Regions from separate parts of the Homo sapiens genome. Here regions 2, 3, 4, 5, 6 and 7 are each linked to region 1. The links come from fine-mapping of genetic effects on gene expression. A gene starts in region 1. Each other region holds a variant in brackets. All regions are shown on one strand. Distances are between the middles of the regions.

Evidence for each region.
Region 2: its variant is fine-mapped to the expression of NOC4L in whole blood (TOPMed, PIP above 0.99). The same link has a PIP of 0.9 or more in CD4 T cells, aorta, lung, skeletal muscle, sun-exposed skin and thyroid.
Region 3: its variant is fine-mapped to the expression of NOC4L in whole blood (TOPMed, PIP 0.97).
Region 4: its variant is fine-mapped to the expression of NOC4L in whole blood (INTERVAL, PIP 0.99).
Region 5: its variant is fine-mapped to the expression of NOC4L in prefrontal cortex (GTEx, PIP 0.97).
Region 6: its variant is fine-mapped to the expression of NOC4L in pancreas (GTEx, PIP above 0.99).
Region 7: its variant is fine-mapped to the expression of NOC4L in whole blood (TOPMed, PIP above 0.99).

The regions. Positions count from the first base shown.
Region 1 is chr12:132,142,807-132,146,897 of GRCh38, reverse strand. It overlaps NOC4L (nucleolar complex associated 4 homolog), which reads right to left and starts at 2,441. Exons shown (of 15, transcript NM_024078.3): 1 at 2,293-2,441; 2 at 1,924-2,044; 3 at 1,233-1,339. The coding sequence starts at 2,409. It overlaps DDX51 (DEAD-box helicase 51), which reads left to right and starts at 2,579. Exons shown (of 15, transcript NM_175066.4): 1 at 2,579-2,905; 2 at 2,989-3,203; 3 at 4,020-4,091. The coding sequence starts at 2,602. RefSeq lists enhancers at 2,359-2,658, 3,588-4,091 and silencers at 2,669-2,718, 2,789-2,988.
Region 2 is chr12:132,085,216-132,089,306 of GRCh38, reverse strand. It overlaps the pseudogene EP400P1. Among named protein-coding and RNA genes, the nearest start is that of SNORA49, 56 kb to the right of the region's middle. RefSeq lists a silencer at 2,693-2,869 and enhancers at 4,054-4,091, 3,645-4,091. The variant A/C (reference allele first, on the strand shown) is at 1,896.
Region 3 is chr12:131,973,758-131,977,757 of GRCh38, reverse strand. The region is part of intron 2 of EP400 (E1A binding protein p400); the gene reads right to left. Among named protein-coding and RNA genes, the nearest start is that of EP400, 26 kb to the right of the region's middle. The variant G/A (reference allele first, on the strand shown) is at 1,608.
Region 4 is chr12:131,948,517-131,952,607 of GRCh38, reverse strand. It overlaps EP400 (E1A binding protein p400), which reads right to left and starts at 2,666. Exons shown (of 53, transcript NM_015409.5): 1 at 2,572-2,666. RefSeq lists an enhancer at 1,495-2,202 and silencers at 2,255-2,954, 3,045-3,094. The variant AAAAAAAT/T (reference allele first, on the strand shown) is at 1,536.
Region 5 is chr12:132,027,969-132,031,968 of GRCh38, reverse strand. EP400 (E1A binding protein p400) reads right to left here. Exons shown (of 53, transcript NM_015409.5): 27 at 3,681-3,952; 28 at 2,066-2,268; 29 at 1,811-1,980; 30 at 1-16. It overlaps SNORA49 (small nucleolar RNA, H/ACA box 49), which reads right to left and starts at 745; the gene lies at 609-745. RefSeq lists a silencer at 3,671-3,965. The variant G/A (reference allele first, on the strand shown) is at 2,060.
Region 6 is chr12:131,864,390-131,868,480 of GRCh38, reverse strand. LOC124903058 (a long non-coding RNA gene) reads right to left here. Exons shown (of 2, transcript XR_007063537.1): 2 at 3,945-4,091. Among named protein-coding and RNA genes, the nearest start is that of ULK1, 28 kb to the left of the region's middle. RefSeq lists enhancers at 61-657, 3,798-4,091. The variant G/A (reference allele first, on the strand shown) is at 1,918.
Region 7 is chr12:132,167,403-132,171,493 of GRCh38, reverse strand. No RefSeq gene overlaps it. Among named protein-coding and RNA genes, the nearest start is that of LINC02361, 20 kb to the left of the region's middle. The variant A/G (reference allele first, on the strand shown) is at 2,021.

The DNA of each region.
Region 1 (4,091 bases):
GCTTGGAAGCTCTCATCTCGGGGTGGCAAACTCAGTGCTTTCAGGGCCCAGGCAAATGACACCACAAAGCAAAAGAGCCTCGTGCGGGATGACAGGAGCACACGGCTGTCTCAGAGCTGTCTCTGACTCTCCCTCCAGCCAATCGCAGCCATGAACAAACTTAGACCCCGTGTTGACAGAACTGATTATTTCTTTCTGAGAAGGTGGAAACTGGTTATTTTCACGTGGTATCTCCCCAACATTTAAAAGTCTGCAGCTCGGCTATAATTATAGACAGACGTGTTGGCGAGGATGTGGAGTATGGAACTCTCAAATGCTGCCAGGGGGAGGGTAAGATAGCGCAGCTACTATGGAAAACAGTCTTGTAGTTCCTCAGAACATTAAAAACACAGCTGCTGTGTGGCCTTGTAATTCCACTGATAAGGCATATTCAAGCAAAAGAAACATCACACAAGAGTTTGTACGCGAACGTTCACAGTCCGCTGTTCGTAACAGCCAAAGGTGGAAACGACGCAAATGCCCAGCAACCTACGAGCGGCTGAACGATACGTGCTGTGCTATACGACGCGCTGCTACTCAGCCACAAAGAGAACGAACTTCGAACACGCCGATGAGTGGAAGAAGCCACATACCGTATGATCCCCCTTATGAGGAGCGTCTAAAAAAAGCAAACCCATTGATCCAGGAAGTAACCACTGATCCAGGAGTGGCTGCCTGGGGCTGGGGGTGGAAAGGGGCGGGATATGGAAGCGATGGTAACTGGTACAGGATTTCTTTTCGGGGCGATAAAGATGTTCTGGGATAGCGGCAACCACTGCACAACACAGTAACAGATGCTAACTTCTCAGCTTTAAACGGTAAACTGTGCCTCAGTTATTCCTCACTACAGATTTTAAGAAAGCTCATAATGCATTCCCATGGCTGCAGACCACAGTGTGATCTGAGCAAACACATCTGTGGACTGGCACGAGGCTTGGTGTGCGTGCTCTATGCAAACACAGAGATCCCCGTGGATGCCACTGGAAATGAACACGGATTCTGCGTCTTCAATATTCACTACAGGACTCGATAGCCATGTTTCTGAATGGGACTGAACACCCACAGGGTGATGCTCCCATGAAGGAAGCAGCTTTGCCTGGACAATTGTGGGAGCCCCAGACCTCTGCTTTGTGGATAACCTGGGAGTTGGGGTGCAGGGGATGGACAAGGATGAGGCCAGCCCAATGACCCACCTTGACCTGAAAGGAGGGGTGGCCCAGGAGCTCTCCCAAGCGATTGCAGCAGCTGTGATAGCGGTGTCTCATCCACACCTTGTACTTCCGTGTGGCTCCCTGGGACCCTGCAGACAGGTTAGGGTGGTCAGCCCACGTGAGGCCCACATACGCCACCCTGGGCCCAGCCCAAAATCTCAGGCCTGGCTCCACCCTCCCATTGTCTTCTACTCAGCCTCCGCAGGTGGAAACAGGTCGCTAAGGCCCCCAGACCTGTGCTGAGACCAGCACATTCCCTGAGCCCTGCAAACAGGAAGAGCACCTCCTACCCCAGGACTGCCCCAGCCAAGCTGCCAGGAGCAGGATCCACATCCCCTCTCTTTACTCCAAGACCTGACGTCCCCAGGATGGGGACATAAAGGAAGCTCCGAGTTTAAGCGACCGTGTCAGGATCAGTCAACATCAAATTACAAAAGGGGTGCAAAGCACACAAAAAGTCGTACCTTGTCCAGTGTTCATCTACACTCAGCTGCAGGGCACCCATGTCACCCCTGCCCCAACGCCACCATCCATCTTCCACGGTGGGCTTGGTGCGTCCTCCCACCAGCCTGCACGGCCTGTGCCAGGGTTGGGGGCGCTCATCCCATGGTGACAAAGCCTCCCTCCGACCCACGGAAAGAGAAGAGCAGCCCCGGGGCCCTCCAGGGCTCACCTGTCATGACCATCTCCTCAGAGGGCAGCTGGCCCACAAACAGCTCTCCCCGCTCCAGCAAGGCCCCGAAAAGACGGCTGCACGTGCGGACTGCTTCCTGGATCTCCTCCTGGTCCTCAGACTGCAGGAGAGGCGGCGGCAGGGTGCCCGGCCGCCAACTGTCACCTTCGCCCCTGCCTAGGCTGCCCCCAACCCGTTCCCTTCCCCCTCGGGACGCCAGCCCCGTCACCCCCGACCCGTGACCCACACGCCTCCCACCCTGACCCCCCAACGCCGTCTCGGAACCTCCTGGGGACCTGCCGCCGCAGCCCCCCATTCAAGTCCCGCTCCCGTGCCGCGACTCCGGCCCTGCGACGCCGCCAGGCCCACCTGCAGCACGGCCAGGATGTCGAACACGGCGTTGGCCTCACTGCGGCTCGCCAGCACCGCCTCCAGCCGGCGGCCCAGAGCCCGGCGAACTCCCGCGGCGCCCGGCTCCCGCTCCATGCCGCCCCCAACACGGAACAACGCGGATTCTCAGCCGCCGGCGCTCCCGTGACGTCACCACTGCGCGTAGAACCCGACGTCATCTCTACGCGCCGTACCCCAACCCCATCTTTTGCGCGGAGCCCGAGTCGCAGGCGTGCCGCCGACGTCATCGCAGCGCGCCACGCCCGAGTCCCAGGCGTGCGGCTGGCCATGGCGCTGTTCTACGTCGCGCGGTACCCGGGCCCCGATGCGGCAGCTGCGGCGGGGCCGGAGGGCGCGGAGGCCGGGGCGCACGGCAGGGCCCGCGCGCTGCTCGAGCGGCTGCAGAGCCGGGCCCGCGAACGGCAGCAGCAGCGGGAGCCCGCGCAGACCGAGGCGGCTGCATCGACCGAGCCGGCGACCAGGAGGCGACGGCGGCCCCGGCGGCGGCGGCGGGTGAACGACGCGGAGCCGGGGAGCCCGGAGGCGCCGCAGGGAAAGCGACGGAAGGCGGACGGCGAGGACGCGGGCGCAGGTGGGCCGCGGGGCGAGCGGGCTCCCTCTGGGGCGCCGGCGACTCGGTGCTGACGCGCTGCCGGGTGGGTGTCTGCCTCGCAGAAAGCAACGAGGAGGCGCCAGGGGAGCCCAGCGCAGGGAGCAGCGAGGAGGCGCCAGGGGAGCCCAGCGCAGGGAGCAGCGAGGAGGCGCCGGGGGAGCGCAGCACCAGCGCCAGCGCCGAGGCGGCCCCAGATGGACCGGCCCTGGAGGAGGCGGCCGGACCCCTGGTCCCCGGCCTGGTGCTGGGGGGGTTCGGGAAGAGGAAGGCGCCGAAGGTGAGCCTCGGCGGGCGGGAGGGTGGTCGGCGTGAGAGGGTAGGCTGCGCGGATTCTTAAGTGCGGCGGTCGCCCCGGAAGATTTCGTTCAGCGAATGTTCCCGGGTCACAGCCGCGCCTCGCTGCCAGGTCTGCAGTTTCATCGCCTAGGGGTCTGGATCCTGCACGTGCAGAGCTCCCGTTTCCTCTGCTAGGCTTGCCCCTGTCCTCCCGCCGCGCCGCGCCAGTTCTGCAAGATGTGTTTGCGTGAACGTGCGGGGTTTCCTGCTGTGCGCTCACCGCCTCAGGAGTAAGTCAGAGGCCGTTCTGCAAGCTCCTGACCGTTGGTGTTTTTGCTTAGCACGTGTGGTTTTCGGTAAAGAGATTTCCGGCGAGACAGGTGAAGAAAGCGAGAAGTTTGACAGAGTGCTCGGGCACCTTAGGTAGGGCAGGTGGAGGAGGTTCTCTTTGAGTTGGGATGCAAAGACTTGAAGCCAGGTCAAGGTTGGGGGTTGGGGGTGCCAGGCAGAGGCCTCGAGGCAGGGACGCCGGCGTGGCTGGGGCAGGCGAGCGCCAGGTCACAGGACCTCCTGGCTGCGGGAGGGTGGGTGCCACTGTGGGTTGATGGGAGGCTACAGAGTGAGTTTGCTCAGGGAGTGGCATCTGCTTTTACTGTTTAACTTCTGAAGGCTGTATGGAAAGCGCATCCTGGGGCTGAGAAGGAGCTGAAGACGACAGAGGTTTCCCCAGCCTCCCTCCCCTAGCTTTTTCCACCGTGGGCTTCTGCGCGAGAGCCTGGAAAGCGCTCACCTGGCCTCTCTTTCTTTTTGATGGCAGGTCCAGCCTTTCCTGCCAAGGTGGCTGGCTGAGCCTAACTGTGTCAGAAGGAATGTCACCGAAGACCTGGTT
Region 2 (4,091 bases), 58 kb after region 1:
TTGTATATTTCAAAATTTCTGAAAGAGTAGATTTTAAATATTTTCACCACATAAAAATGGTGTGTGAGGTGATGGGTTTGTTAATGAGCACAATTTCATCATTCTGTAATATAAACACATTAAGACATCACGTTCTTCATAAATATATAATATATACAACAATTATTTATCAATTAAAAATTAAGGCCAGGCATGGTGGCTCACGCCTGTAGTCCCAGCACTTTGGGAGGCTGAGGTGGGCAGATCCCTTGAGGCCAGCAGTTCAAGACCAGCCTGGGCAACAGGGCAAAACCCTGTCTCTACTAAAAATACAAAAATTAGCTGTGCACTTGTGGTCCCAGCTACTCAGGAGGCTGAGGTGGGAGAATTGCTTGAGCCCGGGAGATCAAGCTTGCAGTGAGCCAAGATTGTGTCACTGCACTCCAGCCTGGGTGACAGAGTGAGACTCTGTTTCAAAAAACTTTCCTTTAAAATTTTTAATTACATTAAAATAAGAAAAAGAAATGGTAGTAGCATCTAGGGGGGAAAAGGTTATCCCCTACCTTACACCATTTCAATCAGAATAAATAACTAAATGTTATCATGGAAGGAAGAGGAGGCAGGGAGGAAAGGAGGAAAACACCCCTACCTCATACCATTTCAGTCAGAATAAAGAACTAAATGTTATCCTGGAAGGAAGGAAGAGGAGGCAGGGAGGAAAGGAGGAAAACACCCCTACCTCATACCATTTCAGTCAGAATAAAGAACTAAATGTTATCCTGGAAGGAAGGAAGAGGAGGCAGGGAGGAAAGGAGGAAAACACTTTATTGGAATAATATTTCGGGGACTATCTCTACAACTGCGAGGTGGTGAAAGCTTCTTAATAAGTAATGCAGGAAACCCAGATGCTGTAAAGGAAAAAATACATGACTACATAAAAGATGTTTTAAACAAGATCAAAAGACAAAAAATAATTAGCAGAAAAATACATGCAATATTTTATTACTTCAAAGGGTAAATATCCCTGTTATCCAAAGAGTTTGGCTGGTTGCGGTGGCTCACACCTGTAAGTGCAGCACTTTGGGAGGCCAGGGCAGGCAGATCACTTGAGGTCAGGAGTTTGAGACCAGCCTGGCCAATATGGTGAAATCCCATCTCTACTAAAAAATACAAAAATTAGCCAGGTGTGGTGGTGCCCGTCTGTAATCCCAGCTACTCTGGAGGCTGAGGCGGGAGAATCACTTGAACCTGGGAGGCGGAGGTTGCAATGAGCCGAGATCACACCACTGCACTCCAGCCTGGGCGACACAGCAAGACTCCATCTCAAAAAAGAGCTACTATAAAATAGTTAAAAAAAAAAAAGAAAAGAAAAGAAAAGGAAACCTCTCCAGGAAATGGGGAAGAACACAATGGAAAACTTCAGAAGAGGCACTGCCAATGGGCCAGTCCACGAAGTGCAGCACACGGCGCCAGCAGGACATGGCAGCACCCATTCAACAGGCAGTATGTCAGACGGGAGCAAAGCGTCCTCCCCTTCATGGCTTCAGGAATGTAACTTTGCTATAACTTTGGGAATAGATCTCTCAATAACTATTGAAATTTAAATGTTAAATATGCATACCCTTTGACCCACTAACACCATTTAGCTCCCCTTCATGGGAATCTAGCCTGTAGAAATGAAAGAAAGTGTCAGGACCCATGCATAGGAATGTGTCTCTCAGTACAAACTGTGGCAAAAAAACAGACACAAAATGAAATCCATCAATGGGGAATGGTTGACTAAATATGTTGTATCCTCAGTACGGACTATTATGTAAACATAAAAAGAATAAATTTTTGCCTGTAATCCCAGCACTTTGGGAGGCTGAGGCAGGCAGATCACAAGGTCAGGAGATCGAGACCATCCTGGCTAACAC[A/C]GTGAAACCCCGTCTCTACTAAAAATACAAAAAATTAGCCAGGCATGGTGGTGGGTGCCTGTAGTCCCAGCTACTCGGGAGGCTGAGGCAGGAGAATGGCGTGAACCCGGGAGGCGGAGCTTGCAGTGAGCTGAGATCGCGCCACTGCACTCCAGCCTGGGCGACAGAGCGAGACTCCGTCTCGAAACAAAAAAAAAAAAAAAAAAGAGAATAAATTTTTATTTCCTGACATGAGCAGATGTTGAAGACATATTACTAACTGAAATGGAAAAAAAGATGGAGGGTGTTATTACAGCACAAAAGGACTGAAAAGGACTTATTTTTCTGTATTGTTTGAATTCTTATGAGGGTACATTTTGTAACATCAAAAAGCAAATTAAAAATATGGCTCATTCCAAGGTACAAAAAATTACTCTGGCAAATCAAAGTTTTTCAAAGTATCTTCAGACTCAAAGAAGTCAAAAAATAAGCTGGACACAGATAGACACTATTTGTTCCTGTAGCAGCTGGAAACCACAGTGAAAGGGCGTTGGCTTTTCCTCCTTAGAAGGGCCTCAGCACCTGACTTTGGAGAGAGCCCATTCTTTGCCATTTTTCCTCTACATGGTGGTTGTCAATGGACTCTTAGGGGACCAAGAATCACTTTACAACATTCTGTTCTCCTATTCAAAATGGGTCATGCTCCATACTTCTCAGAGTCATCACCCAAAATCATACATTTCAATGCTTTTTCAAACATGTGAATACCACCCAGAAAATTCGTAAGCATGCCATTATCCTCCAGGCCCTTTATTACATGATCACCATCATTAAAGTCCTAACACTTAACCATTTTGTAGTAGTTATGACAACTGTTACCTTAACAGTGAACAGATCAGATGACAACGTATCCATGGCCAGGTGGGACGATGTGGACCCAGGAGGACCTAAAATCATGGCCAAGAGACCTCTGCACCACATGCTGACTCTGTAAGGCCATCTCTCCTTGAGTGCTAGGTATTGTTGAAGGAGGGAGTTTCTACTTGTCTCTACTGTGACTGAACATGAAGTACAGACTTTTATAAGTAATATATATATTTTTTGAGACGGAGTTTCGATCTTGTTGCCCAGGCTGGAGTGCAGTGGTGTGATCTCAGCTTACCACAACCTCCGCCTCCTGGGTTCAAGCGATTCTCCTGCTTCAACCTCCCAAGTAGCTGGGATTACAGGCAAGCACCACCACACCTGGCTGATTTTTTTTGTATTTTTAGTAGAGACGGGTTTCTCCATGTTGGTCAGGCTGGTCTCGAACTCCCGACCTCAGGTGATCTGCCCGCCTCAGCCTCCCAAAGTGCTGGGATTACAGGCATAAGCCACCACACCCAGCATAAATAATAATTTTTAAAAGTGCATTAGTTTAGCAAAAACGTGACAGGGATGTCAGTGAAACACCTTTGTGTTACAACTGTCATTTTGTACACCTTGGACAATTCCATTCAACGAACAATTTAGTTAGTTTTGAAGTCTCAATAACATAGTCAGAAAAGAAACTGCTGTAATCTCCCCTTATCCATGGATTCAGTAACCCTCGGTGAACTGCAGTTCAAAAACATGTGCGTACAATACAGTAAGATATTTTAGGAGAGAGACATCACTTTCACATGACTTTTATTACAGTATATTGTTACGACTGTTCTATTTTATTATTAGCTGTTATTAATCTCTTCCTGTGCCTAGTTTATGAATTAAACTTTATCGTAGATATGGAAGGATGCATAACAAAACAGTGTATATAGTGTTCACTACTATCCTTGATTTCAGGCATCCATTGAGGGTGTTGGACCGTATCCCCTGAAGATAAGGTGGGGCGACTGCACGTGGATTGAGAGGTGCCCTCACTGCTGCAGAGCTGTGGTAACAACACTCACTTGTGGTTCCCAGACAAGACTCTATCTGGTCGTGAGCCCCCAACAGCCAGTGGTACTGCTGTCCAATCTGACAGATGGAAACCAGCGCCAATCAGCCTGCCTGGAGCGGCACAAATAAGCCTAAGACTCAAACTTTCAGCCAGTTAACTGTAAGTAAACCAACTTTTTGGTAAGGAGGAAATACTCACCCAGCTCTTGGGCAAGATAAGTGTCTTTATTATAAAAGGCGTCAATTCGCAGCGTCTTTACTGTAAAGGTGGTGGTATTATTAGATTCTTCCTTTCCACTA
Region 3 (4,000 bases), 170 kb after region 1:
TGCCGTTTACATTTAACCAAGATGGAAAAGGAAAGAAGATGAAAGGGACAGAGGGAATGGACAAAGAGAGGGAGGAAAGAAAGGAAAGAATGTTTTGAAAACAATGGCCTGGCAGTGGTTACCTCTGGGGCAGCATTACAGGTGACATGATTTGTGTGTGTGTGCGTTTCTAAATTTCCCAAATGTTCTATAATGAACATGTATGACCAATACAACCAAAGAAAAGAGTATTTTTTAATTAAAAAAAAAAAAAACTTGATAAAGGGCTCCGTGTCCAGTAATGGCCAAGTACTTCCTATCCGGTCAAACATAATCCAGGTAACAAGGCCGGGCATGGTGGCTCACGCCTGTAATCCCAGCACTTTGGGAGGCCGAGGTGGGTGGATCACAAGGGCAGGAGATCGAGACCATGGTGAAACTCCGTCTCTACTAAAAATACAAAAAAAAAAAAAAATTAGTCAGACGCGGTGACGGGTGCCTGTAGTCCCAGCTACTCGGGAGGCTGAAGCAGGAAAATGGCGTGAACCCGGGAGGCAGAGCTTGCAGTGAGCCGAGACTGCACTACTGCACTCCAACCTGGGTGAAAGAGCGAGACTCCGTCTCAAAAAAACAAAAACAAAAACAAAAACAAAAAACATAATCCAGGTAACCATAAACTCTAGATGAAATACAAAAAAATATGAAAAGGTAGGCCAGTGATACAGGAAGGGAAGTGATATTCGCAAGAAGGGAATAGAACACGGTAAGGTTTCCAGTTTCATGGCATTTGGCATGAGGGCAGCCCCAGTCTGTGCTCTATGGAACGGCTCAAACCTAAAGACACATAGCATCTCACTGGCTTGAACAAGAGGACAAAGAGCAAGAGACAGATGGAAAAGGAGGAGGCCCCACATTCTCTCCCTAACCTCCACCTAAACCATGTACACAAAAACAGAATCCAAGAGAAGGCCCAAGTACTGAACTGAGTTTTCAGGTGCCTCCTGCCACAAAGGAGAAAGAGTATGCAGGTTTTTTGTTGCTGTTTGGCGTTTTTGTTTTTTGTTTTTTTGAGACAGAGTCTCGCTCTGTCGCCCAGGCTGGAGTGCAATGGTACGATCTCGCCTCACTGCAACCTCCACCTCCTGGGTTCAAGCGATTCTCCTGCCTCAGCCTCCTGAGAAGCTGGGACTACAGGTGCGCCACCATGCCCGGCTAATTTTTGTATTTTTAGTAGAGACAGGGTTTCACCATATTGGCCAGGCTGGTCTCAAACTCCTGACCTTGTGATCCACCCGCCTCAGCCTCCCAAAGTGCTGGCATTACAGGCGTGAGCCACCACACCCAGCCAGAGTGTGCATTTTTAATTCAATCAAGTTAAGTGTTAAAGAAAATAAATACGTTTCAGAAGAATATAACAGAACCCAGGGTTTCTACATATCATGCACAATTGTACAAAATCCAATTCAAACTTACTCCAAAATACAAACAAAATTACTCCAAAATACAAACAAAAAACACGAGCCATACTCAGACACCAACCTCAAGATGACCCACGTACTAGAATAAGCAGGCAAGGATATTAAAGTGACCTTAATATGTATGCCCAAGGTCATAAAGAAAAATATACT[G/A]CAATAAAAGACAAGAAGAAATCTTGACAAAACAGAAACTATTAAAATAAAGAGCGAAATGGAGATACTAGAAGTGAAAAATACAACATCCGAAATAAAAAAAAATTCATTGGATAGGCGTAACATCAGTGTGGAGATGTGAAAAAATCAGTCGGGGCATGGTGACTCATGCCTATAATCCCAGCACTTTGGGAGGTCAAGGCAAGAGGACTGCTTGAGGTCAGGAGTTCAAAATCAGCCTGGGCAATATAATGAGACCCCATCTCCAAAAAACAAACAAAAAATTTTAAATTGACCAGGCGCAGTGGCTTATGCTGTATTTCCAGCCATTTGGGAACCTAAGGTACACAGATCACTTGAGGTCAGGAGTTCAAGACCAGCCTGACCAACGTGGCGAAAATTCATCTCTACAAAAATACAAAAATTAGCTAGGTATGGTGGCACAGGCCTGTACTCCCAGCTACTTGGGAAGCTGGGATGGGAGGATCACTTCAGCCCTGGAGGCTGAGGTTGCAGTGAGCCGAAAGAACGCCACCACACTCCAGCCTGGGTGACAGAGTGAGACCCTATCTCAAAAAAAGAAAAAGAAAAAAAAATTTAAAAATCAGTGAGCCTGAAAAAAGATTATTGAGAGAGAAGAACCAAGTGAAGGACCTGACTTCAAGACACGCCCCAAGACTCCAGGAACCAGGACAGTGCAGTGCAGCGCTGGCGTAAGGACCAACACACAGATAAGAAGAACTGAGCTGCGCACCAAGAATCAGACCCACGCTCACACAGTGTTCCAAAGCCTCTAAGGCAATCCAATGGGGAACAGACAGTCTTTTCAACAAACGGTGCTAGAAAACTGGATATCTACATGAACACACGGATAAACTGGACTTCATTAAAATGAGAAACTTCTGCTCAAGAAGCACTGACAGGGAGGACTGTGCGCCCTGTTGACTGCTCCCCGGCTGTGGCTGACACTCAGCCTGCTTCCCAGAGGACTCAGGACACACGGGTCCTGCTGCCCCTGGGTTCTGCAGAAGACACAGGAACTCCTCCAGGCACGGCACACTCAGCCTTGGTTTTCAGAATTATTTTTAGTTTTACCTTATTCTGTCTCCATGAAGGTATTATTGGTAAAGATACTCTGGTCTTTTTTTTTTTTTTTTTTTTTTGAGATGGAGTCTCTCTGTCGCCCAGGATGGAGTACAGTGGCACAAGCCCTGCTCAATGCAACCTCTGCCTCCCGGGTTCAAGCAATTCTCCTGACTCAGCCTCCCGAGTAGCTGGAATTACAGGCGCCTGCCACCAAGCCCGGCTAATTTTTTGTATTTTTAAGTACAGATGGGGTTTCACTATGTTGACCAGGCTGGTTTTGAATTCCTGACCTCGTGATCCGCCCGCCTCGGCCTCCCAAAGTGCTGGGATTACAGAAGATACTCTTGTCTTTAAAATGCAACCTTGATTTTGATCAAAAACCATTATGACAATTCTTTAAAAAAGAGAATTTCTCACAAAGAAAAAACACTCTGAAGGGAATTTAATTCTGGGTGCCCATTTAGGAGAGACAATACCAAAACAGAGCTTATCCATGGAAAACACAGCAGAAGAAAGCTCACAGAACATCTGCCACCTAAAAGGACAGATTGATGGTATTCTGAAGGTAGAAATTAAGACCAATAGTAGTTGGCAGCTACCAAAAGGAAAATTTCTGCCCTATTTAAATAAACAAAGAAATAAACTATGAAGCCAGGTGTAGTGGCTCATGCCTGTAATTCCAGCATTTTGGGAGGCCGAGGCGGGAGGACTGCTTGAGCCCAAGAGTTCAAGACCAGCCCAGGCAACAAAGTGAGACCTCCATTTCTACAAAAAAATTAAAAAACTGGCCAGGCGCGGTGGCTCACGCCTGTAATCCCAGCACTTTGGGAGGCTGAGGTAGGCGGATTACCTGAGGTCAGGAGTTCGAGACCATGCTGGCCAACGTGGTGAAACCCCATCTCTACTAAAAATACAAAAATTAGCTGGGCATGGTGGCACACGCCTGTAGTCCCAGCTACTCGGGAGGCTGAGGTGGGAGAATCGCTTCAACCCAGGAGGCAGAGGTTGTGGTGAGCTGAGATCGTGTTCAGCCTGGCAACGGAGCAAGACTCTGTCTCAAAAAAAAAAAAAAAAAATACAAACACATACGTAAAGTAACGTAAGAAACAACAGTTGGGTTAGGATCACAAAACCATAAATAATTACTCATTTTCTCTAACATCATAATCACTGAAAAAAATGCTCCAATCAGGAGGTTTTTATAAGACATAAATAACCATAATAATATTAGTAGTATTTTTTATACTATAGCTGCACTCAACACAACCACAAAACCTTCTGGAAACAAAGAGAAATACACGCAATGC
Region 4 (4,091 bases), 190 kb after region 1:
GGTGCCACACACCTATAGTCCCAGTTACCTGGGAGGAGATCACTTGAGCTCAAGAAGTCACAGCTGCAGTAAAGCTATGATCATGCCACTGCACTCCAGCCTGGGTGACAGAGCAAGACCCTGTCTCCACAACAAAAACAAAAACAAAAACAAGCTATTGGGGCCGGGCGCGGTGGCTCACACCTGTAATCCCAGCACTTTGGGAGGCCGAAGTGGGTGGATCACTGAGATCAGGAGTTTGAGACCAGCCTGGCCAACATGGTGAAACCCTATTTCTTTTTCTTTTTTTTTTTTTTTTTTTTTTTGAGACAGAGTCTCGCTCTGTCGCCCAGGCTGGAGTGCAGTGGCGCAATCTCCGCTCACTGCAAGCTCCGCCTCCCAGGTTCACCCCATTCTCCTGCCTCAGCCTCCCGAGTAGCTGGGACTACAGGCACCCACCACCACGCCCGATTAATTTTTTGTATTTTTAGTAGAGATGGGGGGTGAAACCCCATTTTTCTACTAAAAATACAAAAAAAAAGGCCAGGTGCAGTGGCTCACCATGCCTGTAATCCCAGCAAAGGGGAGGCCGAGGCGGGCAGATCACCTGAGGTCAGGAGTTCAAGACCAGCCTGGCCAACATGTTGAAACCCCCTCTCTACTAAAAATTAAAAAAAAAAAAAAAGTAGGCAGGTGTGGTGGCAGGCACCTGTAATCCCAGCTACTTGGGAAGCTGAGGCAAGAGAATCGCTTGAACCCGGGAGGCGGAGGTTGCAGTGAGCCGAGATCATGCCATTGCACTCCAGCCTGGGCAACAAGAACAAAACTCCGTCTCAAAACAAACAAACAATACAAAAAAATTAGCTGGGCATGATGGCAGGCACCTGTAATCCCAGCTACTCGGGATGCTGAGGCAGGAGAATCACTTGAGTCTGGCAGGCAGAGGTTGCAGTGAGCCGAGATCGCGCCACTGCACTCCAGCCTGGGAGACAGAGTGAGACTCTGTCTACAAAAAAACAATAAAAAGAATAATTACAGAAATTATTTTATTGCACATATTCTGCTAAAGAAAATGACAACACAAATAAGTAAAAAAGAATACAACTCATCCACGAACCCAGAGAGAAGCCCTATTAACACTTCCACGTGTCCCGGCGCGGTAGCTCACGCCTACAGTCCCAGCACTAGGAGGCCAAGGCGGTAGGATTGTTTGAGGTCAGGAGTTCGAGACCAGCCTGAGCAACACAGCAAGACCCCAACTCAAATAATAAAAAATTGGCCGGGCATGGTGGCTCATGCCTGTAATCCTAACACTTTGCGAGGGCGAGGTGGGCGGACTGCCTGAGCTCAGGAGTTCGAGACCAGCCTAGGCAACACAGTGAAACCCCGTCTCTACTAAAACACACAAAAAACTGGCCAGGCGCGGTGACTCATGCCTTCAGTCCCAGCACTTTGGGAGGCCAAGGGGGCGGATCACGAGGTCAGGAGTTCCAGACCAGCCGGACCAACATGATGAAACCCCGTCTCTACTAAAAATCCAAAAAAAAAAAAAAAAA[AAAAAAAT/T]AGCCAGGCGTGGTGGCAGGCGCCTGTAGTCCCAGCTACTCGGGAGGCTGAGGCAGGAGAATCGCTTGAACCTGGGAGGCGGAGGTTGCAGTGAGCCGAGATCGCGCCACTGCACTCCAGCCTGGGTGACAGAGAGAGACTCTTTCTCAAAAGAAAATAACAAAACAAAATAAAAAGTGAGCCGGGCATGGTGGCCCAAGCCTTTGGTCCCAACCACTCGGGAGGTCGAGGCTCTAGTGAGCCGTCATCGCGCCACTGCACGCCAACCTGGGCAACAGAGCGAGACCCCGTCTCAGAAAGTAATTACTAATAAAGCACTGGGATACGTTACTTTTCTGTCACTGACACAGCGACAGCTGAGCAGAAGCCCGTGGGCCGCAGGTGTGTGACGAGAGGCGCCCCCGGGGAGGCAGCGGCAATTACTAAGGCTCCGCCGTGGAGGACCGGGCAGGTCTACGCCGAGAAGGAGCGGATTCGGACCTCACTGTAACCCCTGTGGCGGCGCGTTCCGGGACGCCCGGGACGCGGGGTCCTTAAGTTCTGAGTGAATTCGCCCCGTCGCGCCTCAGGAAAGTGGTTCTGGACGTCCCATCCCCGCATCTCAGCGTCGCGTCCGTGACCCCGAGGGAAGCCCACGCAAGCGCCAGGAGCAAGAGCCACCCCCTCAGCCCCGAGAACCAGGAGGCGCGGGCCGGAGTCCCCCGGTTCCCGCAACGCCGCCGCGCCGAGCTGCCCTCGGCCACGCCCCCAGCCCAGGAGCCCGGGGGGCCACGAGAAATGGGCGCGGATCGCGCGACCTGCGGGGGACGGGCGCTACGACTCGAAAGACCCGGGCCCGTGAGCCCTCAGCCCGGTCGCCCGCCCGGGGTCGCTCACGACAGCCGCCACGGCCTGGTCCCCACGCGACGCCCGAGGCCGGCCGGCGAGCGGGCCCTGTACGCCCGCGGCTGCGGCTACGCGACCCCGGACCCTGGACGCTGCCGTCCCGAGAGCCTCCCGCCCCCGTCCCGCGCCTCCGCCCTCACTTACCCTGGGCCTCAGGGCTGCGCTCCGGCCGCGTCAGGAGGGCGGGAGGATGGAAGCCGCGCCGCAGCCGCTCAGTGCATCCGGGGCCCCGGCGGGAGGAAGCGGCGGCGCGGCTGCTACGGCGAGCCGGAAGGGACGCGCGTCCGCGCGCCCGTAGCTGCGCTTCCGCGGCGCCGCTCTGACCGCGCGAGGGCGCCGGAGGTCGAGGGCGCCGGAGGACTAGGGCGCCGCGAGACTCTGCGGGGTGGGCGGGGGCCGAACCCAAGGCCGAGAGGGACGGAGGGGGGCCGGTCCCAGACAGACGGAGGCGGGGCCGGTCCGAGACAGACGGAGGCGGGGCGGGGCCGAGACTGAGGAAGGCGGGGGCGGGGCCGAGACTGACGGAGTCGCGGCAGCCCGGCTTTTCCACGCGCAGTTCGGGAAATGCGCCCACGTGGAACAGAAGTGGGCCGCCAGCTCTCACACTCTGCAGATTCACCAAACAGACCAGGCTCACATGCAAGACCCAAACCCTGTGTGGCCCAGGCTGGCCTCGAACTCCTGGACTCCAGTGATCCTCCTGCCTCAGTCTCCCGAGTGGGTGGGACCACAGACTCGCGCCACCACCCCTGGTTAATTTTTTGTATTTTTAGTAGGGGGGTTGGTTCACCAAGTTGGCCAGGCTGGTCTCGAACGCCGGACCTCAAGTGATCCGCCCACCTCGGCCTCCCAAAGTGCTGGGATTACATGTGTGAGCCACCACGCCCGGCCAAAAACGACAAAACTCTATTAAAAGACACAGACGTAGCTCACGTCTATAATCCCAGCACTTTGGGAGGCCGAGGCGGGAAGATCATTTAAGGTCAGGAGTTCCAGACCAGCCGGGCCAACATAGTGAAACCCTGTCTCTATTAAAAATACAAAAAATTAGCTGGGCGTGGTGGCAGGCGCCTGTAATCCCAGTTACTCCGGAGGCTGAGGCAGGAGAATCGCTTGAACACGGGAGGCAGAGGTTGCAGTAAGCCGAGATCATGCCACTGCACTCCAGCCTGGGCAACAGAATGAGATTCTGTCTCCAGATAAAGACATAGGCATAAATCTTCGGGGTTGTGGGTTAGGAAATGGTTTCTTAGATATGACACTGAAAACGCAACTAACAAACATAGATATATTGGACATCATCACAATTTAAAACTTTTGTGCTGCAAATGACACCATTTAAAAAAGATAATCCACAGAACAGGAGAAATTACCTTAAGTCCATATGTCTGACATGGAACTCGTGTCCAAAGTAAATAATTTACAACATAACAATTAAAAGGGCAGGCACGGTGGCTGTTGCCTGTAATCCTAGCACTTTGGGAGGCTGAGGCAGTTGTATCCCTTGAGCCCAGGAGTTCAAGACTAGCCTGGGCAACATAGAGAGACCCCATCTCTACAAAAAATTTAAAAGTCAGTCATGGTGGCATACACCTGTAGTCTCAGCTACTCAGGAGACTGAGGGAGAATCACTTGAGCCCAGGGAGGCTGAGGGTGTAGGAAGC
Region 5 (4,000 bases), 110 kb after region 1:
AACTCCTCATCAGTTCCTAAGATGAAACAAAACACAGGAGTTAGTATTCTTGGAAAATGTTGGGAAACCTTTGACACGTTTCAACATTTATTAATTAGAAATAATCCCACAGCAGGCCGGGCGTGGCGGCTCACACCTGTAATCCCAGCACTTTGGGAGGCCGAGGTGGGTGGATCACAAGGTCAGCAGATCGAGATCATCCTGGCTAACATGGCGAAACCCCGTCTCTACTAAAAATACAAAAAATTAGCTGGGCGTGGTGGCAGGCGCCTGCAGTCCCAGCTACTTGGGAGGCTGTGGCAGGAGAATGGCGTGAACCCGGGAGGAGCCTGCAGTGAGCCAAGATTGCGCCACTGTACTCCAGCCTCGGCGACAGAGCAGGACTCTGTCTCAAAAAAGAAATTATCCCATAGCAAAACTGCTTGGTTTGTATTCCATTCAACACGAGGCTCATGTTAAAGCAACACCAAGGTCCCCGCACTGTATTCCAGCTCTTCTGTGCAGCCACTATCATCTTACGCTCACCCATCGCCAACACCCTCATGCACAGTTTAAATAACATCAGCCATGAGTGACAAGAAGGAAAAAGTTAGAGTCCACCTTGCATTTACTGTCAGCTCAACTTGTAGGCCCCAAAAGAAAACAGCGTCTTACTGGGGAGGGATATGTGCTTTCTCATCTATCCTCAGGCAATGCCAGAGCACTTTACAGGCAACAAAAAGTCCCTGGAGTAAGGCTGAGGAAGCAGGAAAAACAAAACCGTGAAGGATAGTCCTCTAACCTCACTGTTGACCATGAAGGGAGATGACTTGAATACTTTTCTTCCATAACGATTTCTGTGCCAGAAACGAAACCTAATCACTGACCAACTCTCTTCCTTCCAGGCATTCTACAGATAATTTGCTATAATATTACCAAGAAAACTTGTTAAATCACCTTTTGCTCTATTTCTTTCTAGGCCTCTCCAGCGTGTACATGAGCGTGTGTGTGAGATAAAGCAGGCTGCGCGACTTACAGGGCAGCAACTTGGTTTTGCGCTGGGGGACACTGGGCCATGCTACTAAAACTGGCTCTGAAATGCTGCTGACAAGGGCCTAGCACACCACGTGAAATGCTGGGCAGTTTCTGCTCATGAAGCTGCCAGGGCACGGGGCCCATGGACAACCCCTTATGCACTCACTCTTCTGCTGAACACTGACTTTGTTCTCAACTGTGAATTACCATAAACATTTCAACAACAACTATGTAGACAGATCTTAAGTGGTGTGTTTGTTGTCATGTAAGTAAAGGGTCCTAAATACAGAATTACTAGGTCAAGCATACATCACTATTAAGGTTCAAATCCATACTGCCAGGCTGCCTTCTAGAACTATACTAGTTTATGCTTTCACGGGAGGATATGAGAGTGTCTGACTCACTGTGCCTGATGAAACAAAACAGCCTTGGCAAATCTTGTAAGTAAACAATGGGCATATTACCCTAACTTGTATTTCCCTTCATTCTAAATTGGTTGGAATTGTTTTCATATTTTTACCCTGTAGCCACCTCTTGAAGTACGCCAGTATCGTCTTAATGATGATTGCAGGTCACCGGCATTTATTCTGAGACATCAAGACTGCATTTACCTAACAACGTGGCTTTTAATAAAAAATATCGAAGGATGGATTGAGACTTTAAAAAGTTCAGAAGCTCATTAAGTCCCTCCCCTTTCACTTAGAAGGGCCATGAGACCACTGAATTTACACAGCACTTAGGCATTCAACACCAGTGACTGACCCATCAGAGACAATGTAAACAATGTGCTTCTCACCTGCCGTTGCTCACTGCTGGCATTTTCATCGATTCTTACATAGGTGAGGTAATGGAAGTTCAAGAACATCTCTAAAATGTCCAACATAAGAATCATCTGTGATAAAATCAGCACCCGACGTCCTTCAGATTTCAATTTCTGAAGCAAGATAGCTAAAGCTTCCAACTTCCCTGGGAAACGAATCACATCAAGAGCGCCTCATCATCCAGGGCCGGTGCAGCTCCCGCACGGGCCACGCCCCCAACTGCC[G/A]CATACCTGAGTCGAACTGCACCAGCCTCAGCTCAGGGAACTGCAGCAGGCGTGGAGCCGTGGTCTGCCGCAGCTGCTGGAAGTACGGCGCAGCGTGCTCTCTCAGGCCCTGCCTCAAGATCCTCATTCTGTGGCTGTACAGGGGTGGCGGCCGCGGCACCCGTAGGGACGGGGGTGCTGCCACCACCGGAGGAATCACAAAGGCCACCCTGAGGAGCAGAAAGCATGTTTTGTCACCACCAGGAGCCACACACCTTCACCCAGCATGGGGGCTCCTGAAAGATGGGGCAGACTTCTGACAGTCCAAGTCCCAGGAAACAGCAGGGCTCAACCCAGTCACATGGGGATGTGGGTGTTGGCACACGGGCAGGGGCCCAACGAGGCAGATCCTAACCAGTCCTGGCCAATAACCACCACCTCGGGGACTAATTCAGACAGTCCAGGGCTGATGGATCAATGGGGGTGGATTCCCTAGGCCGCAGGCACCAGGTCAGAGATAAGCCATTCTCTTTCTAGTGTGTCTTCAGCTGGAAACTTTGGGACAAAGGTGCACTGTCTCGTGGACCCTAGAACTGCTATAGCCACTGTGCCACCAGGACGGGGGCCAGACTCAGGGTGAAGGAGCCTTCAGGACAATGACAATAGAGCGAAGATCGCACAGCCAACCTAAGGCCCACCTTGCAACCTGTGGAGGTCACCTGCACCAGAAGGCCCTTGCTATGGACATCAACTATGACTCACTCCCAGCTGTATTCAAACTGAACGAATGGTCACCCATGATGTTCAATGAGGGAGGAGTACACAAAGACAAATCAGTACTCGAAAGAAAAACTCCAGGAGCACAAGGTCACTGACATAGTCACTCCCAGACCAGGAGAAGCCAGAAGTGGCTTGTTCGGCCTTGGAGAAGCACTCCCAGTTTTCTTTTTTTCCATTAATTCTGCTTCCTGATCTGAAAGAACTGAAATAGGTAGATCCTGAAAGCTGAGCTGAGCCAAGGCACAGGAAGAAGCCAGGTTGCCCTCTGCAGACAGGAGACAACTGAGAACTACAACAGCTGCAAAGAAGGGAAGAAAACATGTCTGAAGTGGAGCCTGGAGATGGGGTCCAAGCAGGGAGTGGAAATGCAAACAGGGTAACGCACTCTACTGAAAGCAAGCTCAGTTGAGAGCGGCCGGGTGCCCACCGTGCCCACCGGTGCTCAGATTTGCTCTCCATTAAAGCACGTTCTGAGATCAACTCCTGCCCACATTTGTCATCATGTAATGTTCACTCACTCATGGGGCTCTTTTAATGCAATCATTTTTTGAAAGAGTCAAATGGAGAAAGTCCTTAGCAACACAGTGATCTGTCCCCAAGCACAGTGTGAGCTCAGTGCTGCGGCTCTGCCCCCAGGGCTGCCAACTTCCTTCAGAAGCCGCACCTGGCACTGAGACCCAGATAACAAAACCATCTGATCCCAAAGCTGAAGACCTCAAAGACTAACTTCAAAACAGACCGCTAAGGGACAGCGTGGGGAGAAGCCGATGGGAGTAAGATGTACATCCACGAGACAAGAAGGGGTCTTGCCGGGGTGCAATGCAGCCAGAGAGCACCGAAAAGGTCACGAGGTCTGCAGTACCTGTCAATAACATCCTGCAGAGACTCTCCACACCGACAAAGCGTCAACATCAGCTCACTTGGACTTTCTGAGGATGAAGTGTAACTGTGCGCTGGCCCGGCCTCCTTCCCACGACGGCCATCCAGGGACCCACGCCACTGTACCCTTCCATGGCTAGGCAGGGCACAAATCCTTAGCAAGTCTCTGCCATAGACTGGAGCTTGAGAACAGCGCCGCTCGTTGACTAAATAAATCTGATCCAGGCGCTCTTTCAAGAGTCTGGTCTTTTCCTCCTTTATCAAAAAGTGATGAAAAACAGTTACTTGAGAAACAGAATGACA
Region 6 (4,091 bases), 280 kb after region 1:
GCCCTCCTGGTGGATTGGGCCGTGGCACCAGCGTGCATCCAGCCTTCCCACCGCTGGCCTGTGGGTATCCTGCCCTTCCTGCAGGAGCCAGCCTGGCCTCAGCACCCCGTGGAGGGTGCAGGCGTCCCGGGCTGCAGCTCTGAGCTTGGCCTGTGGCTGCTTGGCCCTGCTGTGGCCCTGCTGTGGCCCTGCTGAGGGTCAGATGCCCGGGCCCTGGACCTGAATGGGAACCATTCTCAGCTGCACCCCAGTCCGCGCACATGGCCATGGGGCAGGGGACAGACCTGCATGGGGCTGAGTGGCTGCGGCTCCTGGAGACCCTGGAGGGAACCCCATGGGCTGCCTCGAGGATGGAGGATCTGATGCCACAAAGGGCTCAGAGCCAGGCCTGCAGCCTGGCCAGCAAGTGACTCAGCTGCGGCCCTGCCAGCCACAGGCCTGGGTGGGCTCATGTCCGTTCCCTGGTTCAGCACCCACGACGTAACTTCTAACCATCCTTCCATGCCCACCACACACCTCGGGCCAAGCTCAGTCATGTGAGCTCCCACCTCAGCCCTGCCAGGCTCATACTCCGCTGGAACCGCACAAGGCTGGCACTCTGTGACTTTAGGATTCAGCCGGATGTCCCCTCCTAAGGGGCTGTCCCTGATCACCTAAACCAAAGCCACGCCTCCCGGGCCCCTGTACTCCTCATCTTCCCCGGCCCACATGGCTTCAAGCTTCCATCACAGGACAACTGGCCCTGATGTTCACTCACAACGTGGAGGAAATAGGAAGCCACTGTAGCTCAAGAGGTTTACACAACTCACGTGGCCCTGGATGGGGTAATCGTTCAAACGAATCCATGTAAAGATATTTTGTGGGGACGGGACACATTTCAATATGGATGGGTCTCACACGACCTTACAAAATCATTGTGTGTGGGGATGGGACACATTTCAATATGGATGGGTCTGACACAACATTACAAAATCATTGTGTTTTTGGTGTTTTTTAGATAAGGGGTCTCACTATGTTGCCCAGGCTGGTCTTGAACCCTAGGCTCAAGCGATCCTATAGTCTCAGTCTCAGAAAGTGCTGGGATTCCAGGCATGACCCATGGTGCCTGGGCCGGAATTGTTAATTTTGTCAAATGTGATCGTGATATTGTTATGTAGGAAAATGTGCACCTTCTTAGAGAGAGAGAGAAAATATTTAGGAGAGACATGTCATGATATCTGTTTTTATTTCAAAATTGCTATAACAAGCACAAAAATAAATAAAGCAACATCCAAAGCCCTCACAATGCTGGAATCTAGGTGCGGTGCTTATAAAAGGCTGTTCATTCAACTACTTTCTTTTAAAAAAAATTTCTTTTGAGACAGGGTCTCACTCTGTTGCCCCAGGCTAAAGTGCAGTGGAGAAATCATAGCTCACTGCAGCCTCCAACTCCCAGACTCAAGCGATCCTCCTACCTCAGCCTCCCTAGTAGCTGGGACTACCAGTGCACACCACCATGCCCGGCTAATTTTTGAATTTTTTTCACAGACGGGATTTTGCCATGTTGCCCAGGGTGGTCTTACACTCCAGGGCTCCAGTGATCCACCTGCCTCAGCCTCCCAAAGTGCCGGAATTACAGTCCACTCCTTTTTTTTTTTTTTTTTTCTGAGACAGAGTCTTGCTCTGTTGCCCAGGCTGGAGTGCAGTGGCGTAATCTCAGCTCGCTGCAACCTCCACCTCCCAGGTTCAAGCAATTCTCCTGCCTCAGCCTCCTGAGTAGCTAAGATTACAAGCACCTGCCACCCTGCCTGGCTAATTTTTGTATTTTGGTAGATACGGGGTTTCGCCATGTTGGCCAAGCTGGTCTCGAACTCCTGACCTCAAGTGATCTACCCACCTCAGCCTCCCAAAGTGCTGAGATTACAGGTGTGAGCCACC[G/A]CGCCAGGCCCAGTCAACTACTTTCTTTTTTCTTTTTTCTTTTTTTTGAGACGGAGTCTCTCGCTCTGTCGCCCAGGCTGGAGTGCAATGGCTTGATCTTAGCTCACTGCAACCTCCACCTCCTGGGTTCAAGCGATTCTCCTGCCTCAGCCTGAGTAGTTGGGATTACAGGCGCCCACCACCACGCTTGGCTAATTTTTGTATTTTTTAGTAGAGATGGGGGTTTCACCACGTTGGCCAGGCTGGTCTCGAACTCCTGACCTCAGGTGATCTGCCCGCCTCGGCCTCCCAAAGTGCTGGGATTACAGGTGTGAGCCACTGCACCCAGCCAAGTCAACTCCTTTCTAAGCTTGAAAATTTTCGTGAAGAAGAAATACTGTATATGAGAAAAGAAAAAAGAACATACTGGGAATTCCTGTATGTTTACTTAAATAATCTTCTCAGACCTTTTTCTTTATTGCTATGTAATACATACATAATAATATACATAGCACATATAAACAGCATAATTAAATAAGGAACACCCTGTAAATCACCACCTCACCCAAAACTAAGAACATCTCCAATTTATTTTTTCTGTTTGTTCTGAGACAGGGTCTCGCTCTGTCGTGCAGGCCGGAGTGCAATGGCAGGATCTTGGCTCACTGCAGCTTCCACCTCCCTGGCTGAAGCAATTCTCCCATCTCAGCTTCCTGAGTAGCTGGGACTACAGCGTGCACCACTATGACTGGCTGTTTTATTTTTATTCTTACTTTTTGTAGAGATTGGGGGCGGGGGGGGTGGTCTCACTAAGTTGCCCAGGCTGGTCTCGAACTCCTGCCTCCAGCGATCCTCCCACCTCAGCTTCTTCAAGTGCTGGGGTTACAGGTGTGACCACCGCGCCCGGCCCAGTCATTTTCATTGTCATCTGTGGTCCTCCCATCCCATCCTCCCAACCTCCCCAACCAGGCTACTCATGCCTGAGTTTTGCGCTTATTATTCCTTTGTTTTTTGTTATTTCTACTGAAGTGTAACCGATTCTCAGTCAAGTGCACTAATATGAAGGGCACAGCCTGATTCATTTTTGCTCACATGCACACCTGTGTCACCACAGCCCCTCAAGATGTAGGGCATCTCAGACCCTAGGAAGCTGGCAGGTGCCCCGTCGTTCCTGACGAGTGAGTCACTGTCCTGATCTCAGCCTCTGGACATTAGCGTGCCCATCCCCGGACTGCACATAAATGGAGTCAGACAGGACTCACCCTGTGTCAGCTGCGAGACTCCCCGCTGACACTGCATCATCTCCTTGCTTCTCACTAAACAGTCTTAGCGCGTATGTGCGTGTGTATACCTAGAAGCTATCTTAGCACGTATGTGTGTGTATACCTAGAAGTGATCTTAGTGCATATGTGCGTGTGTATACCTAGAAGCTATCTTAGCACGTATGTGTGTGTATACCTAGAAGCGATCTTAGTGCGTATGTGCATGTGTATACCTAGAAGCTATCTTTTCCAGCTTTGCTTTTTTTTTTTTTTTTTGAGACAGTCTCACTCTGTCGCCCAGGATGGAGTGCAGTGGTGGGATCTCGGCTCACTGCAAGCTCTGCCTCCTGGGTTCACGCCATTCTCCTCCCTCAGCCTCCCGAGTAGCTGGGACTACAGGCGCCTGCCACCACGCCTGGCTAATACGGGGTTTCACCATGTTAGCCAGGATGGTCTCGATCTCCTGACCTCGTGATCCACCCGCCTCAGCCTCCCAAAGTGTTGGGATTACAGGCGTGAGCCACCGCACCCGGCCTGCTTGTTTTTAAGCTTTATAAAAATAGCACCATAGTATAGAAAAAAAAACACCTGTGTTTCACAGGAAAACTATGCATTTTAAATCAGAGCAGGTACTCCAGGGCTGTCAGATTCTAGCTTTTCGTTGTCTTTGAGCTGTTGTACATCACGTTGTAGGCTGAGGCAACTGACAGACAGAAATTCTTTCTTATCCACCAGGTTCCATTGTCTTTCCTCCCACCTCTTAGGAAAAAAAAAAACAGATTTTCCTGCATTTACATATTCATTTTAATATTCTGTTGTTTTTTTTTCTTTTTCTTTCTTTTTTTTTTTTTTGTTTTTTTTTGAGACAGGGTCTTGCTCCGTCACCCAGGATGGAGTGCAGTGGTGCAATCACAGCCCACTGCAGCCTTGAAC
Region 7 (4,091 bases), 25 kb before region 1:
CCCCCTGGGGAGGTGACAGTGGGCAGGGCAGGGGCCTCTTGGCTACAGGCCCAGAACGGCTGAAAAATGTGGCCCTTCGGGGACTTTCGGATGCTTTGGAAGGGCTTCCAGTGTCCCTGGTGCCCCCTCACCCCCTGCCAGGTCTTCCCGGTCCCCACCCCCGACACCCCACACATCCCCACGTCTGTGGCCTCGAATGTGCAGGACACGCCTAGGCACGAACCCGACCTCGTCGGAAGCCGTCTCCACCAACACCATCATAGGTGGCCAGGCCTGGTCCCCCAGAGCTGCTCCCTGACCGGCAGCATCACAATTCAAGGCAGATGGAAACCGTCAACGTCTCCACATCGTAGCTACCATGCACGCGGCTGGGCAAGTTCCTCGGTGGGTCCCACGCAGCACTGCACAGCCTGATCTGGCAACAGCTCCACGGGCCCCAGGGACAGAAACTGAGGCCACACCGGTGTCTGCACGCGCGTTCTGCCTGGTGTTGGAGGGTGTGAGTGCACCTGTGCCTGCCTGTGTGTGCTGGTCTCATGGGTGTGCACATGTGTGATGTCCAGTACTCCTTAGGTGGCCAAAAGTCAATGCCCCTTGCTGACGCCCCAAGGTGCCGGGGTTCCCTCCCCAAAACGTGGTCGCGTTGGCTCTCTGGCTCAGCGTCATCGGAACCCGGGGTCCACCAGCCTCCCGCTGGACGGGGCATGGTCCTCGTCCTCATGGGGCTGCAGGGCAGCCAATGTCCTCTTGTTCCCCCCCTCTCCACACACACACCGGGGGACTTCATTTGTGGCCACAGGGTCCCCTGCCGTGCAAACTGTCTCCAGCTCACTCTTTGGCCAGTGACAAGCGTGTTCACCTCCAGCACGGGACAGAACCTGGGAGTGTCTGCCAGGATGGAGAGGGCCCAGCCAGGGCCTGCCCAAGGCACCCCTGTGTATTAAAGGGACCTGCCCCGGGGACATTGGGGGATGGGGACAGAAAGGGGCTGGGGCCATGGCTCGACCACAGTGTGCTTGGAAAAATGTGACTGGAGGATGACGAGGCCGCCCCCGCCCAGCACCAGGCAGTACAGACCCGTTTCCCAGGAGGAGCGGGCCAGGATGTGTGTGGCGGCCAAGGCTGGGGCTGGCGACTTTCTACTCATCTGCTCATTAGATCCGCAAAGTAAATTGCGTTTCTCATAATTCTGCTATCGACTGCCATGTACTTTGTGGTCTGGCACGGGGAGAAAAGAATTTACCCAGAGCAGAGAAATCTGTGTAAATAAATGCATCATTAAGAATTCCTGTAACCGTCAGAAAGGCTGATTAATGGCACTTTTGCTAGTGCAGGAAGAGGGCTGACATCACAACGTTCCTTACTGAGAATGAGGCCTGAGCCCAGCCTACAGAAGGAGGGTGTGAGCCCCGAATCGCTCTCCTGATTAGAACTTGTTCCAAGTATTGACTGGGTCGAAAGAAACAAAATTTAATTTGAAATCAATTCCAGAGCATAAAATTGACCTCAGTTGTGTGTGCTCAGAAGCCACCAGGCCAGTCTGCGAGTTCTTGGTCCAGGCTAGGGGCATCAGACCTCCAGCTGCCCTCCCCACCAGGGAACATGTCCACCCTGCAGAGACTCACAGGATCCCCTCTGCCTTTGCCCTTCTTTTGGGGCGTGGTGGGAGTGCAGAGAGAGCGCCCTCATGAGACCCAGGGTCCTTCCACCCATGCCCCTCAAGCCCACGCCCCACTCAGGTCAGCTCTCCTACCAGGACCCAGGTGCCATGGGAGGTGGGGGGCCAGCAGCCTCAGGGGCCCCCGTGTCAGATGGACAGAGGTTATGCCGCAGACGTCCTGGCCGACATCCGGGGTTTGGGGCCACCTGCCAGTCTCACCTGCCACTGCCCGTGCTGGACACGTGATTCTGGCGGTGGCCCAGGCTCAGGGAGGAACTCAGGCCAGCAGCCAGGAGGGGCAGGTGGGAGCTGCTCAGAGGAGCTGAGACCCCTCAGCGTCCCCGCCCTGGGGTGCCTGCC[A/G]CGGGCAGGGGCTGTGTTCCCTAAAGAACACTGGCCGGCTCCGGCCCTGGCTCCCCGCTGTCTCCCCCTGCCACGCAGCCCACCCTCCCCGAGGTCTCCCCCTGCCACGCAGCCCACCCTCCCTGAGGTCTCCCCCCTGCCACGTGGCCCACCCTCCCCGCTGTCTCCCCCCTGCCACGTGGCCCGCCCTCCCTGCTTCTCCCCCTGCCACGTGGCCCACCCTCCCCGCTGTCTCCCCCCTGCCACGTGGCCCGCCCTCCCTGCTTCTCCCCCTGCCACGTGGCCCACCCTCCCCGCTGTCTCCCCCTGCCACACGGCCCACCTTCCCCAGAAAGCACCTTGGGGTGGGGCCAGGACCAGGGGCCCCTGGCACGTGGGAGTCACACCCAGGACTCAGTGGCCCCCAGCTCGGTGCACAGACGCCAGGGCCAGCCGGGAGGGGCAGGGTGCTGGCCACCACAGGGGCTCCTATCCCCCAGATCCCTCAGTGCACTCCGCCAGAGGGCCGGGACCCCACCAGAAAGGGAGCCGGTGCGGCACAGCAGGCAGGGTGCACCCGGGACTCTGCATTTCTAAGAAGGCTCAGCCGGTGCTGGTGCTCCTGGCCCTGTGACCACGTGGAGCCATCCCACCACCCGCCGTGGGAGCAGACGCCCTCCCTGCTGGCCCCATGAAAGGCCCACGGGGTCCCTGGCCCACAACCCAACTCCTTCCCAACCCCGCATCCTGCTCCCTGGCATCAAGAAAGGATGTACCCCCAGAGCCAGGGACAGCCTCAGCCCCGGCACCATCGGAGTTGGGGCCCCGGCTTCTAAGCCTGGCGCCAGCACAGCCCAGGCAGCTCCTCCGACGTGAGGCTCCTCGGAAGGGCAGGCTTTGCCGGGCTCCTGCCGTCTGGGTCTGTACTGCAGTCGGCAGTCCCCACCCACGCTCAGCAGCCCTGGCCCAGCAATGGACTATCCCGTTATCCCGGCCTAGACCCCGTCTCAGCATCGGCCCCCAGAGGACCCCAGTGGGCCCCCCTCCCCACAAGCTCACTGTGCTGGGACGTGTGGCCGGCCTCACTGTGACTTGCAGAAAGCCCATGGAGAAGGCTGTTCCCAACCCGTTTCACTCAGGGGAAACTGAGGCTCAGGACCTCAGTGGCGAGCAAGAGGGCTGGCTGCAGAGCCCCTCCTCCCAGCTTGTTCATCTCCTCCAGTCCAGCCCAACCAAAGGCCACAGCTGGGAAGCCCCGTGGGCCTGAGGCTCAGCAGCGTTCCTGGGGACCCTCGTCCAGCCCCGCTGACGCTGCCGCCAGACCAGCTCTGACCTGGGAAGAGCCCAGAAGGCTCAGCCCCCAGGCCAGAAAGTGACTGCCCCCACATCCTGCCCTCCACAGCCACTCCAGCGCCTCCCCGACCCCTACACTCAGCTGTGTCTCGGGATCCCCAGGTTTCAATCCCTGCCAGGTTTCCAGAAATGCTGATTCACCTCGGAAACCGCACGTGCTGTGGGCGTGCACATCTGGCGAGAACAAAGCCATCGTGGGCAACCCTTGGGGACGCTGTTTCGGCCTCGTGTGTTGTTATTAAACCTACCGATTTCCGCCTGGGTTCTGGCCCACGTGACCTCCTCTGCTGCTGTGTGAATGGCCCCCGTCCTGCACACTTACCGCCCCAGCAAATCCCAATGCCAGCTCTGCCTCCCTGCCACCGGCCACTCTCCTTCCAGCTTGCCCTTGAGAGGCTCAGGGCTCCGGGCAGGGAAGAGGCTGCAGAGAGGGAGGGTGGCCCCGAGCCGGGTGTTTTCCCAAAAGCTCCTCGCTTGGGTGCCCACCCTAGGTGGAGGAGTGACCCCTTCAGGCTCACAGCTGCGGCCGCCTACTGCCTTCTAACAAGAACCCCACAGCTGAGTGGCTTAAGCAATGCCAATCACTTTATCTCCTCCCTTGGATTCTGTGGTCGGAGTGTCTGGCTCAAGGAGAGGAAGAGTAGGGCCCAGAGGTCTCTCTGCGTTGCCATTTCAGCATGGCAGCTTCGGGTGCCTGTGCTGCTCGGTGGCCTGGGACTCTGGAGGAGGGAGTCCCCAG